Linked DNA regions of Homo sapiens: region 1 is linked to region 2. Evidence: fine-mapped expression QTL. A gene starts in region 2. The other region holds a variant in brackets. All regions are shown on one strand. Distances are from middle to middle.

The links. PIP is the estimated chance that this variant, and not a neighbour inherited with it, causes the effect.
Region 1: its variant is the best candidate, but not a certain one, in a credible set for the expression of WTAP in whole blood (INTERVAL, PIP 0.51).

What each region holds. Positions count from the first base shown.
Region 1 is chr6:159,792,988-159,798,366 of GRCh38, forward strand. MRPL18 (mitochondrial ribosomal protein L18) reads left to right here. Exons shown (of 4, transcript NM_014161.5): 3 at 4,300-4,531; 4 at 5,065-5,379. The coding sequence ends at 5,136. Among named protein-coding and RNA genes, the nearest start is that of PNLDC1, 4.6 kb to the right of the region's middle. RefSeq lists an enhancer at 1,980-2,851. The variant C/CT (reference allele first, on the strand shown) is at 3,141.
Region 2 is chr6:159,724,564-159,729,942 of GRCh38, forward strand. It overlaps WTAP (WT1 associated protein), which reads left to right and starts at 2,943. Exons shown (of 8, transcript NM_001270531.2): 1 at 2,943-3,140. It also overlaps a transcript of SOD2 not described here. RefSeq lists enhancers at 2,154-2,751, 2,232-2,321, 2,672-2,801, 2,752-3,349 and a silencer at 2,812-3,361.

The sequences.
Region 1 (5,379 bases), 68 kb after region 2:
TTTTTTTTTTCTGGTATTTTTTGTAGAGATGGGGTTTTGCTGCTGCCCAGGCTGGTCTCGAGCTCTTGAGCTCGAGAGATCTGCCTGATTCAGCCTCCCAAGGTGCTGGGATTACAGACGTGAGCCACTGCACTCGGCCCCAACGCATTACTTTGATTTAATATTTGGATCATTAAAAATAACTAAAGATGTATTTCCTCATTTTTTCTCTGTCTGCCTTACTCGCAATATTAAAAGTAGAGAATTTCAGAATATTATAGTAGGAAATGACCTTTGACATAATGAATCGGGCCCTTCATTGAACAAATGGTTCAAGTGTCAGCAAACTACGGCCCGTGGGCCAAAGGTAGATTGTGAGCTAAAAACTTGTTTTTACTTTTTTTAAGTTAAAAAAAAAATCAAAAGAATATTTTGTGGCTTGGGAAAATTAAATGAAAATCAAATTTCGTTGCCCAGGTTCTTAGAACCTAGCTGTACCTACTCTCATTTGTTTACGCATCACCTGGCTGTTCTAGCACTACAATGGCTGAGTCGAACAGTTTCAACAGAAGCTATTGGACCTAGAAAGCCTAAAATATTTACTATCTGGCACTTTGTGGAAAAAGATTGTTGACTCCTGGTTTAACAGATTGTGATTTTTGGCCGGGCGCGGTGGCTCACGTTTGTAATCCCAGCACTTTGGGAGGTCGAGGCGGGCGGATCACGAGGTCAGGAGATCAAGACCATCCTGGCTAACACGGTGAAACCCCGTCTCTACTAAAAATACACAAAAAAATTAGCCAGGCGTGGTGGCAGGCACCTGTAGTCCCAGCTACTAGGGAGGCTGAGACAGGAGAGTGGCGTGAACCTGGGAGGCGGAGCTTGCAGTGAGCCGAGATCGCGCCACTGCACTCCAGCCTGGGCAACAGACTGAGACTCCGTCTCAAAAAAAAAAAAAGAGATTGTGATTTTTTACTAGAGCCACCAGGAAAACCAGGAGTAGACTCCATATTTCCAAATCTAATGCCTCTTCTATTTCACATTGAGAATCCTAGTGAGAATCTAATGATTTGGGTGTGTTTTCTTTAACTTAAACTTGACTTTTTAAAGGGTAACATATACGTATGTTATAAAATCCAAAGGGAGTACAGTTTCTTGTGTGTCCTTCTAAAGATTGTCTATGCATATAAGCAAAAACTGTTAAAAACAATAAATCTTAGCATACGATAAACACTTCCGCATCTTTCTTCACCACCACCCTCAACCACCCCAAGCACGCACTTAAAAATACATCTTGGAGATTCTTCATGGTAGTTAAGAGCATTGACTCTGGAGCCAGACACTGGGACTTAAACCATGGCTCCATTACTTACTAGTTTTAATCTTTTTCAAGTTACTTAACCTTTCTGTGTTAGTTTCTGCAGCTAAAAAAAAATATAGAAAAAATAATAGAATTGAGACATAAGCTTTATCTATAAACCGTTAAGACAGGCCTGGCATATACTAAGTGCTCAGTAAATGTTAACTATTATCTTCATCATTATAAAGCATTATTTCATTCATTTCAGTAACTGTATGGAATACTATTGCATGGATTTTACTTAACTCGCTCCTAGAGGGTGATTATCTTTTATGATTACAGTGTTGCATCGAATTGTCTTGTCCATGCATTTTGTTAGTGAGATTGAGCATATTTTTGTGAATTTGAGTCATTAATATTTTTCTTTTCTGTGAACAGTCTGTTTGGATAATGCTTTGCCTATTAAGTTATGAAGGGGTGGGTTGCCCCTCCTCACCTGTGGGTGTTTCTTGTTAGGTGGAACGAGAGACTTGGAAAAGAAAAAGACACAAAGTATAGAGAAAGAAATAAGGGGACCCAGGGAACCAGCGTTCAGCATATGGAGGATCCCGCCAGCCTCTGAGTTCCCTTAGTATTTATTGATCATTCGTGGGTGTTTCTCTGAGAGGGGGATGTGTCAGGGTCACAAGACAATAGTGGGGAGAGGATTAGCAGACAAACATGTGAACAAAGGTCTTTGCATCATAGACAAAGTAAAGAATCAAGTGCTGTGCTTTTAGATATGCATACACATAAACATCTCAATGCTTTACAAAGCAGTATTGCTGCCCGCATGTCCCACCTCCAGCCCTAAGGCGGTTTTTCCCTAACTCAGTAGATGGAACGTACAATCGGGTTTTATACCGAGACAGTGCATTGCCCAGGGACAGGCAGGAGACAGATGCTTTCCTCTTGTCTCAAGTGCAAGAGGCATGCCTTCCTCTTATACTAATCCTCCTCAGCACAGACCCTTTACGGGTGTCAGGCTGGGGGACGGTCAGGTCTTTCCCTTCCCACGAGGCCATATTTCAGTCTATCACATGGGGAGAAACCTTGGACAATACCTGGCTTTCCTAGGCAGAGGTCCCTGCGGCCTTCCGCAGTGTTTGTGTCCCTGGGTACTTGAGATTAGGGAGTGGTGATGACTCTTAACGAGCATGCTGCCTTCAAGCATCTGTTTAACAAAGCACATCTTGCACAACCCTTAATCCATTTAACCCTGAGTTTGACACAGCACGTATTTCAGAGAGCAGGGGGTTGGGGGTAAGGTCATAGATTAACAGAATCTCAAGGCAGAAGAATTTTTCTTAGTACAGAACAAAATGGAGTCTCCTATGTCTACTTCTTTCTACACAGACAGTAACAATCTGATCTCTTGCTTTTCCCCACAAGTTATTGATCATTTTCTTGTTAATTATAGGAGGCTTTTAACATATTGTGTAAATTAGCTCTTTGAACAATATATGAGTTTAAAATATTTTTTCTTTTTATATTTTTGTGACAGGGTTTCACTCTGTCACCCAGGCTGGAGTGCAGGGCATTATCACGGCTCACTGCAGCCACAACCTCCTGGGCTCAAACAATCTTCCCACCTCAGCCTCCCAAGTAGCTGGGACTACAGGTGCACACCATCACGCCTGGCTGATTTTTTCTATTTTTTGTAGAGACAGAGTGTCACTGTGTTGCCTGGGCTGGTCTTGAACTCCTTGGCTCTAGCAGTCCTCCTGCCTCAGCCTTCCAAAGTGCTGGGATTACAAGCTTGAGTCACATGCCCAGCCTAAAATATTTTTTGTTTCATTGCTTTTCTTTTGACTTCATTTTA[C/CT]TTTTTTTTTTTTTTTTTTTTTAACCATGCAGCAAATTTTGTCCATCATTTCTTTTTTATGCCATATGAGGGGCTGGGCATGGTGGCTCAGCCTGTAACCCCAGCACATTAGGAGGCTGAGGTGGGTAGACTGCTTGAGCTTAGGAGTTTGAGACGAGCCTGGGCAATATGGCAAACCCTGTCTCTACAAAAAAATACAAAAATTAGCTGGGTGCAGTGGCATGCGCCTGTAGTCCCAGCCACTTGGGAGGTTGAGGTGGAAGGATGACTTGATCCCAGGAGGCAGAGGCTGCTGTGAGCCAAGTTCGTGCCTCTGTACTCTAGCCTGAGAGACAGAGGCAGACCCTGTCTCAAAAAAAAAAAAAAATGGCCATATGAAGCTGGACACAGTGGCTCATGCCTGTAATCCCAGTGCTTTGGGAGGTTGAGAAGGGTGGGTCGCTTGAGGCCAGGAGTTTGACACCAGCCTTGGCAACATAGGGAGACCCTGTCTCTACAAAATAAAAATTATCTTGGTGCAGTGGCATGCACCTGTAATGCCAACTACTTGGGAGACTAAGGCAGGAGGGTTGCTTGAGCCTAGGGGTTTGAGGCTACAGTGAGCTGTGGTTGCACTGCTGTACTCCGAGCTGGGTGACAGTGAGACCCTGTTTCTGAAAAATAATAAAAGCCATATGACATGGTTTGATGTCATATTTAAATATGCATACCTTGAGATTATAAAAAAATTTCTCATGTTTTCTTCTAGTACTGTTATGATTTCAGTTTTTGCATTTAAATTTTTGTTCCGTCTTATATTTATTTTGGTGCTAGCTATAAATAAAAGCAAAGAGTAAGTATATCCATGTCATGCATATGTTCAGTAACTTAGCTCTGTCTCTTCAAATCTCTTTTTGAAGTAGATCTGTAAATAAAACTCAGCTCTTCAGAAACAAATTTCTTCATGATACTTGAACTATTTAGTTTGTTATTATTGAGGATATTCTCATAAAGGCGGAGGAAAAATACTTTTCCCAAGCAAAATCCAAGTTAAATATGTTGAAGTAAATGAACCAAACACTGGATTGTTGAAAAATATTTAGTCATTTATTCACCTCAATTAATGTAACTTTAGGATACAGATTCTTCTGTGATTTTATTATCTTCTCACCCCATTTAGGTTGCGAGTTATAAGGACTCAGCATCATGTAGAAGCACTTGTGGAGCATCAGAATGGCAAGGTTGTGGTTTCGGCCTCCACTCGTGAGTGGGCTATTAAAAAGCACCTTTATAGTACCAGAAATGTGGTGGCTTGTGAGAGTATAGGACGAGTGCTGGCACAGAGATGCTTAGAGGCGGGAATCAACTTCATGGTCTACCAACCAACCCCGTGGGAGGCAGCCTCAGACTCGGTATTTTTGTTTTCATGTACTTATTGAAAAGGTATTGTGTTAATTCTTGGCATTAGATAACTTACATAATAATAACAGTTTTTACTTACCAAATACTTTCCATGTGTCAGACCCTTTGGTGAGTACTCAACAGTGTTACTTCATTTAATCCTCACATCAGTCCATAGGGTAGGGACTAGTACTCTCATTCTATACAGAAATAAACTGAGGCTTACTTGCCCAGAGTCAGTGTATGGTGGATTTCAAACCCAGGGTGACTGATTCTGTAGTCCATGATGTCAGCCACTGTATTTCCTGTTCATATATTGACATCTTGTCCATATAATATTTTGAAATGCTGCTGAACCTTGACATCTCTACATTTCCTTTTTACTTACATCATTATTAAGATCACTTTCTGAAAAACCGTTGTAGGCTGGGAAGTTAGCAAGAACAAATCAATTTATTTCTGTCTTTTGGAAGGTGAAAGTATTTTCAGCCTACTCGTGCTGCTGACTTAATCTTTTCCTTTTTTTTCTGATTTTCAAAACCAGATGAAACGACTACAAAGTGCCATGACAGAAGGTGGTGTGGTTCTACGGGAACCTCAGAGAATCTATGAATAAATGGAAGCATTAATTGTTTTGAACATGTAAATATAAATCTGTCAGCCACTACAGCCATCAAAAGAGAGCATCTGGAAGAACAGCCAGCTTGGAAGTTTTACAGCAATAATGTTGCAGTGGAATATTATTTGTAGTTAAGGTCATCCTCCTCCCCTTTCTGTTTTTTTAAATCAAGAACTACGTTCTGCCCCTCTCTTGGGCTTCAGAAGCATCTAAGAAAAGCAGTCATCAATTATAATTAAC
Region 2 (5,379 bases):
GAAAAATACAGTGGGGCGAGGGACGGTGGCTCACACCTATAATCCCAGCATTTTGGGAGGCTAGGTGGGAGGATCACTTGAGCCCAGGAGTTCAAGACCAGCCTAGGCAACACAGCTCTCTACTGAAAATAGAAAAAAATTAGCTAGATGTGCTGGCACATGCCTGTGGTCCCAGCTACTCGGGAGGCTGAGATGGGAGGATTGCTTGAGCCCAGGAAGTCAAGGCTGTAGTGAGCCATGATCGTACCACTGCACTCCAGCCTGGACGACAGAGTCAGACCCTGTTCTCAAAAAAGAAAAAAAAAAAGAAAAGCAAGAGAAGGGAAGGAAGGGAGGGGGGAAGAGAGGGAGGGAGGGAAGAAGGGAGGGAAGAAGAGAGGGAGAGAAAGAAAAAAAGAAAAGAAAAAGAAAGGAAAGGGAAGGAAGGAAGAAAACAAAACAGAAGTACAGTGGGATGCAAAACACACCTACACAAAGAACCAACTTTCCCTATGCTCAGCTCCGGGACTTTAGTATGCAGATTTCTGTATATGCTCGCAGAAGGTCCTAAATCCAATCTCCTGCATATAAGGAAAGACTACACTATCACAACACAGATACACTACTAGAGTACTGTGTTCAAAAGCTCAGAGGGGCCAGTGGTGGTGGTTCATTCCTGTAATCCCAGCACTTTGGGAGGCCAACCTGCAGGCGGATCACCTGAGGTCAGGAGTTCCAGACCAGCCTGGCCAACATGGTGAAATCCCATCTCTATTAAAAATACAAAAATCAGCAGGGGATGGTGGCGCATGCCTGTAATCCCAGCTATTCAGGAGGCTGAGCTGAGAGAATCGCTTGAACCCAGGAGACAGAGGTTGCAGTGAGCTGAGATTGCACCACTGCACTCCAGCCTGGGCAACACAGTGAGACTGTCTCAAAAAAAAAAAAAAAAACCCAAAGAATAATTATTTTTTCTGTGTATCTTAGTTATATTAGTTAACAGTTAAGTTCATTTGTTTCAATTTGCTTTCAACCTTAGGATTTACTTTGTTTCCTTTTTTATTTACTTTTTTGGCTATGTAAAACTAAAAGTTCAAAGACAGAGAAATCTTGTCTCCACCCCCCACTCTTTATAGGCAACTAAAAATGTTAAGTTTCCAGGATATCCTTCCAATTCCTCCCCGAAAATAAGCATATACACATAAATATTCATATTAAATATAAATATATATTTTTATGTATTTAAGTAAATACATAAAAGCATATATGCTTATTTTTGCTTTTGAATACAGTGAATACTTACTACACTTAAATATTTAAGTGAATACTTAATACAACCTGAGACTCATTCCAAAGCAACACACGATTATTTCCTGAATCTTTTTAATGGTTGCATTGTGTTCTACTGTATGGATGCACCATTCCCAATCAGTTCCCTATTAACGGATATTTGGGTTATCCCTAACTTTTGCTATGACAAATAGCACTGCAATAACCTTGTATACCTATTGTTTCCATGTGTGGAGCTGCACCTTCAGAATAAGGTTAGGGTTAGAAGTATAACTGCAAGGTATAAGAATAAACACAAGTAATTTTGTACTCCGTGGAACTTGAACCATTTTTCCACTCCCACCAGGAAAGGTAATTTCAACGTGTATTTCCATTGTAAGTGAGGTGGAGCGACTTTCTATGTTTAAAGACCATTACGGTATTTTTTCTGAGAATCATCTGTTCATGTCCTTCCCCATTTTCTCCTTTGGCTTTTGCACTTTTTGTTTTCAATTTTTGAGAGCTCTTGTGATACGAGTTGCAAAGATTTTCTCCAGACCGATCTGATTCACTGGAAATATACTACGACCATCTGGAATGTACTTTAATCTTATCCTAATAAATCACCTTACTACAAGACACTCCTTTGGGGATGAACAGGTTTGATAAAGCCGGCTAAGGACAGACCAATCAAAAGAATTACGTGCTCTTCTAGTAAGTGTTTAGAGACTGTTTCACGTTCTCCAGGTAACACCGCCATTACTCGGCGGTCCAGATGGCAGTCTTACTTCAGGGAGTCTACTCCACTTGCAGGACCTCTTTGATTGAGTTCACTAAACCTCACAGGGCCGCCTTCCCCGTGTTCCAGTTAGCAAGGGGCCCTCAACGCCGCGGACACAGCGCAACCTCCGACGCCAGAGAACAATAGCTCCTCGATGCGTCTCCAGAGATGTCAAGGAGGAACGAACCCAGCGGCCAGGAGACTGCGCCTCACGACTGATGAGAGGGAAGGCATCGGTTTCTAAGTTCTCAAAACTTACAGGTGAGCTTCTGCTAAGAGTAAACGCCCGCGGCTCGCCGCCCACGGCCTCTCTCTTGAGGTGGCACCTGGTCCTCCGACACGCGGAAGCATCACGGATGAGCGTCACGAACACAGAGCGGCCAATCACGCGCCGCCTTCGCCCAGATCCCTCCGCACGAGGCAGCCCCGCAGCCGCAGGTGGCCCCGGCGAGTACTTCCACCTTCCCTTCCCGTGATGCCCTGGGGCTGACCTCCGACCTCGCTGGCCCGCCCCTCCCCTCGGCCGCTTCCCTTACTGAGCTTGCTGAGCTCCGGGGCCCGCGGAGCTCGCGCCAGGCTCCTGGGAAAGGACGGGGAGTGTTACCGGGGAGCAGCTGCTCCATTGTGCCTCGAGGCCCCGATCGGGCTAGGCCGACGGCCTCCCTCCCTTCACCTTTCCTCTCCTGGCGGGGTTCGGCGGCGGGCGAGTGACTGCGGCCACGCCTGAAAGGCGACTCTCCTGTGAGTGGGCCAGAAGGCGAACATGGCGGAGCGGGGAGGCTGGCGGGAGGCGGGAGGCGGGAGGCGGGAGGCAGTGGCGCTGGCCTGCGGCGCGTTCGGACCGGCTGTGGGGCGGGGCAGGGCGGAGCGGAGCCGTGCGGCGGGGCGGGGCCGGGCGGCGGGGCCTGGTTTCCTCCCTCAGCGCCATTTTGTGGCAGCGAGACCCACAAATAAAGGGGAGCGCAGGGGTTGCGGCGGGACTAGGAGCGCGGCGGGGCCGGCGGCAGAGCTGTCCGGCTGCGCGGTGGCCCGGGGGGCCCGGGCGGCAGGGCAAGCAGCGCGGCCTCGGCCTATGCGACCGGTGGCGCCGGCGCGGCTTCTGCCTGGAGAGGTAGGCGCGGGCCGGCTGGCGGGAGCGGACGCGGGGGACCTCCGGGGCCTGAGGGCTGATGCGCAGCCGCCCCCGGCGGGTAAGGGGCGGGCAGGGCCCGAAAGGCCACACGGGCCTGGTGCGGCACCGGTCTCTCGTGAGCCGCTCTACCTTCCCGCCTGCGGGGAACACTTCCGCCGCTTCGAGGCCATTTTATCTCTGTCCTCCGTCCCCAAGGCCCGGGTTGAGAGGGGTGCTCTGGCGGCCGGAGAGACCGGCCACTCACGGAGGCCGGAGGATGCCCTCCCCGGGCTGAGCGGCGGCGCTCGTTTTTTCCTCGCCTCGGGGTCGCCCCCTTCACCTCCCTTGGGCCTCTCCTGAGGACCTGGCGGCACTAACGAGTTCAGCAAGGAAAAAAAGAAACATTCGTTCCCTACATTTCATGTCACGCAGTAGGATGTTACTACGTTCTCTTGTAGACTTCCATTTTTAAATGAGTATAAGCATTCTGAGGAAAGAAACTGAATTATTGCAGATTTTTGTGAAATCCAAGTCTTACCTTGGATCCCTGTGAGACAGTTACTAGATTTTTTTTTCACCGTTTTTCATAAGTCTGTGTACACGTAATGGAAAAGCCCGAGTTCTTGTTTTGATAAGAAAGTCACTTGGTTGTTTGATCCCAAAGGATTAGCTTAACATTATCAAGGACTAGCATAACTGTGATTATGTAAAAAAAACAAAACAAAACAAAAAAACTATTATTTAGTCTGGTAGGGAAATACTTCTATGAGTATGTTACAATTGGAAGTTGTATTTGTGCCTATTTTATCTAGTTTTAGTTAATTCCATTGCTTCGGAAGATAAGTGGACGTCATAGATCCATCGCAAGTTCTCGTTTTTTGGATTTTAAAATTTTGACCATTAAGTTTTCTACGATAGATAAACATGTTGTGGACATTTAAAACCGTAATTTAAAACTATGAGCGAAAAATCTTTTCAAGATGGATACATTTTAATTCATTCAAGTAGCATCTGATTAGCCAAGTCGGGGAAAGATTGCAGTCCGCAAAGCTGGCTTGTGATAAGGTTGAGGTTACATTTTAAGGGTTTGGGTAGGTGTGTTTCTTACAGTGCTTTTATATGTTAAGGTATCTTAAGCAGACACATGGTTTAAAAGTTCAGTATTTTTAGTACTTTTTCATTGGCAGAATTTGGACAAGCTACCAGAATTGCTAACTCCTAAAGGATAAAAGTAATAATAATAGTGTGTCCCAGGCACTGCTTATTTTTACATGGCTCTTTTATGTCTAGCTTTTCCAATTCAACGTTGAGTCATGTTTGCTGAAAATATTTTTGTGTATTGTTTGTCAGAAATAAGCTGGTAGAGATGAAACACAATGTGTAAAAAGCCCTGTGATGTGGAGATGAGCATTGTCACAATTTGTACAGTACATTAAAGCGTTCAAGGTCTCTTATGGTCTTGTATGTAGTATTGAATCCCCTTGAATATATTGTTTAGCAGTTTTGATCATTATGTATTTGCTTCTTGCTCCTCAAAATTGTACGTTAGTTAGTAGGTCCTTCAGCAAAAGAAGACTGAAGATAGTATTTTGGTTTTATTCTTGTTTTTAATTTTTTTAGTTGTCTCCAACTTTTCTGCCTCTAAATATTTTGCTTCTTGTAGTTACTAAGCTTAACACAGAAAAACTTTTCAGTATCTCCACAATAGTAAACTTCATTGTGTATTGTGTATAACAAGATGTTCCATCTGACTAAAATATATTGCTGTAAATATTTTCTGCCTTTGAAGATGTAGTTAATAGAATTTAATCTTTTCTAAGTGCACATTGAAGTTGCCTTTTATGTTCATATTATGTTCATATTTTATTTGAAAAATCTATAGCATTTTTATTGTGCTGAAAGCATTAATATTTGCAGCACTTTGTGAGACAGGCAAAATTATCTTTTTGCTGACTTGGAAACTGCAAGAGTTAAAAGACTTGCTTGGAATCACACATGGCAGATAGAGGATAAGGAAAAGATGGCCTTTCAGTTCCTCATCAGTACCTTGCTACTACAGTGTCTGCAGATTGGTGTCTTACATTCAGCTATGATTTGTTCGCCAAGGTACCGTGTCTTCTTACTGAAGTTGTTTTGGCTGGCGCTTGCCTCCGTTCAGAGGGAACTGAGTTACCTAACTTTATGATGCTAAGAGCCAGGAAGGTACTGGGATCTGGGATGCTAGGCACCTAACCAGTCT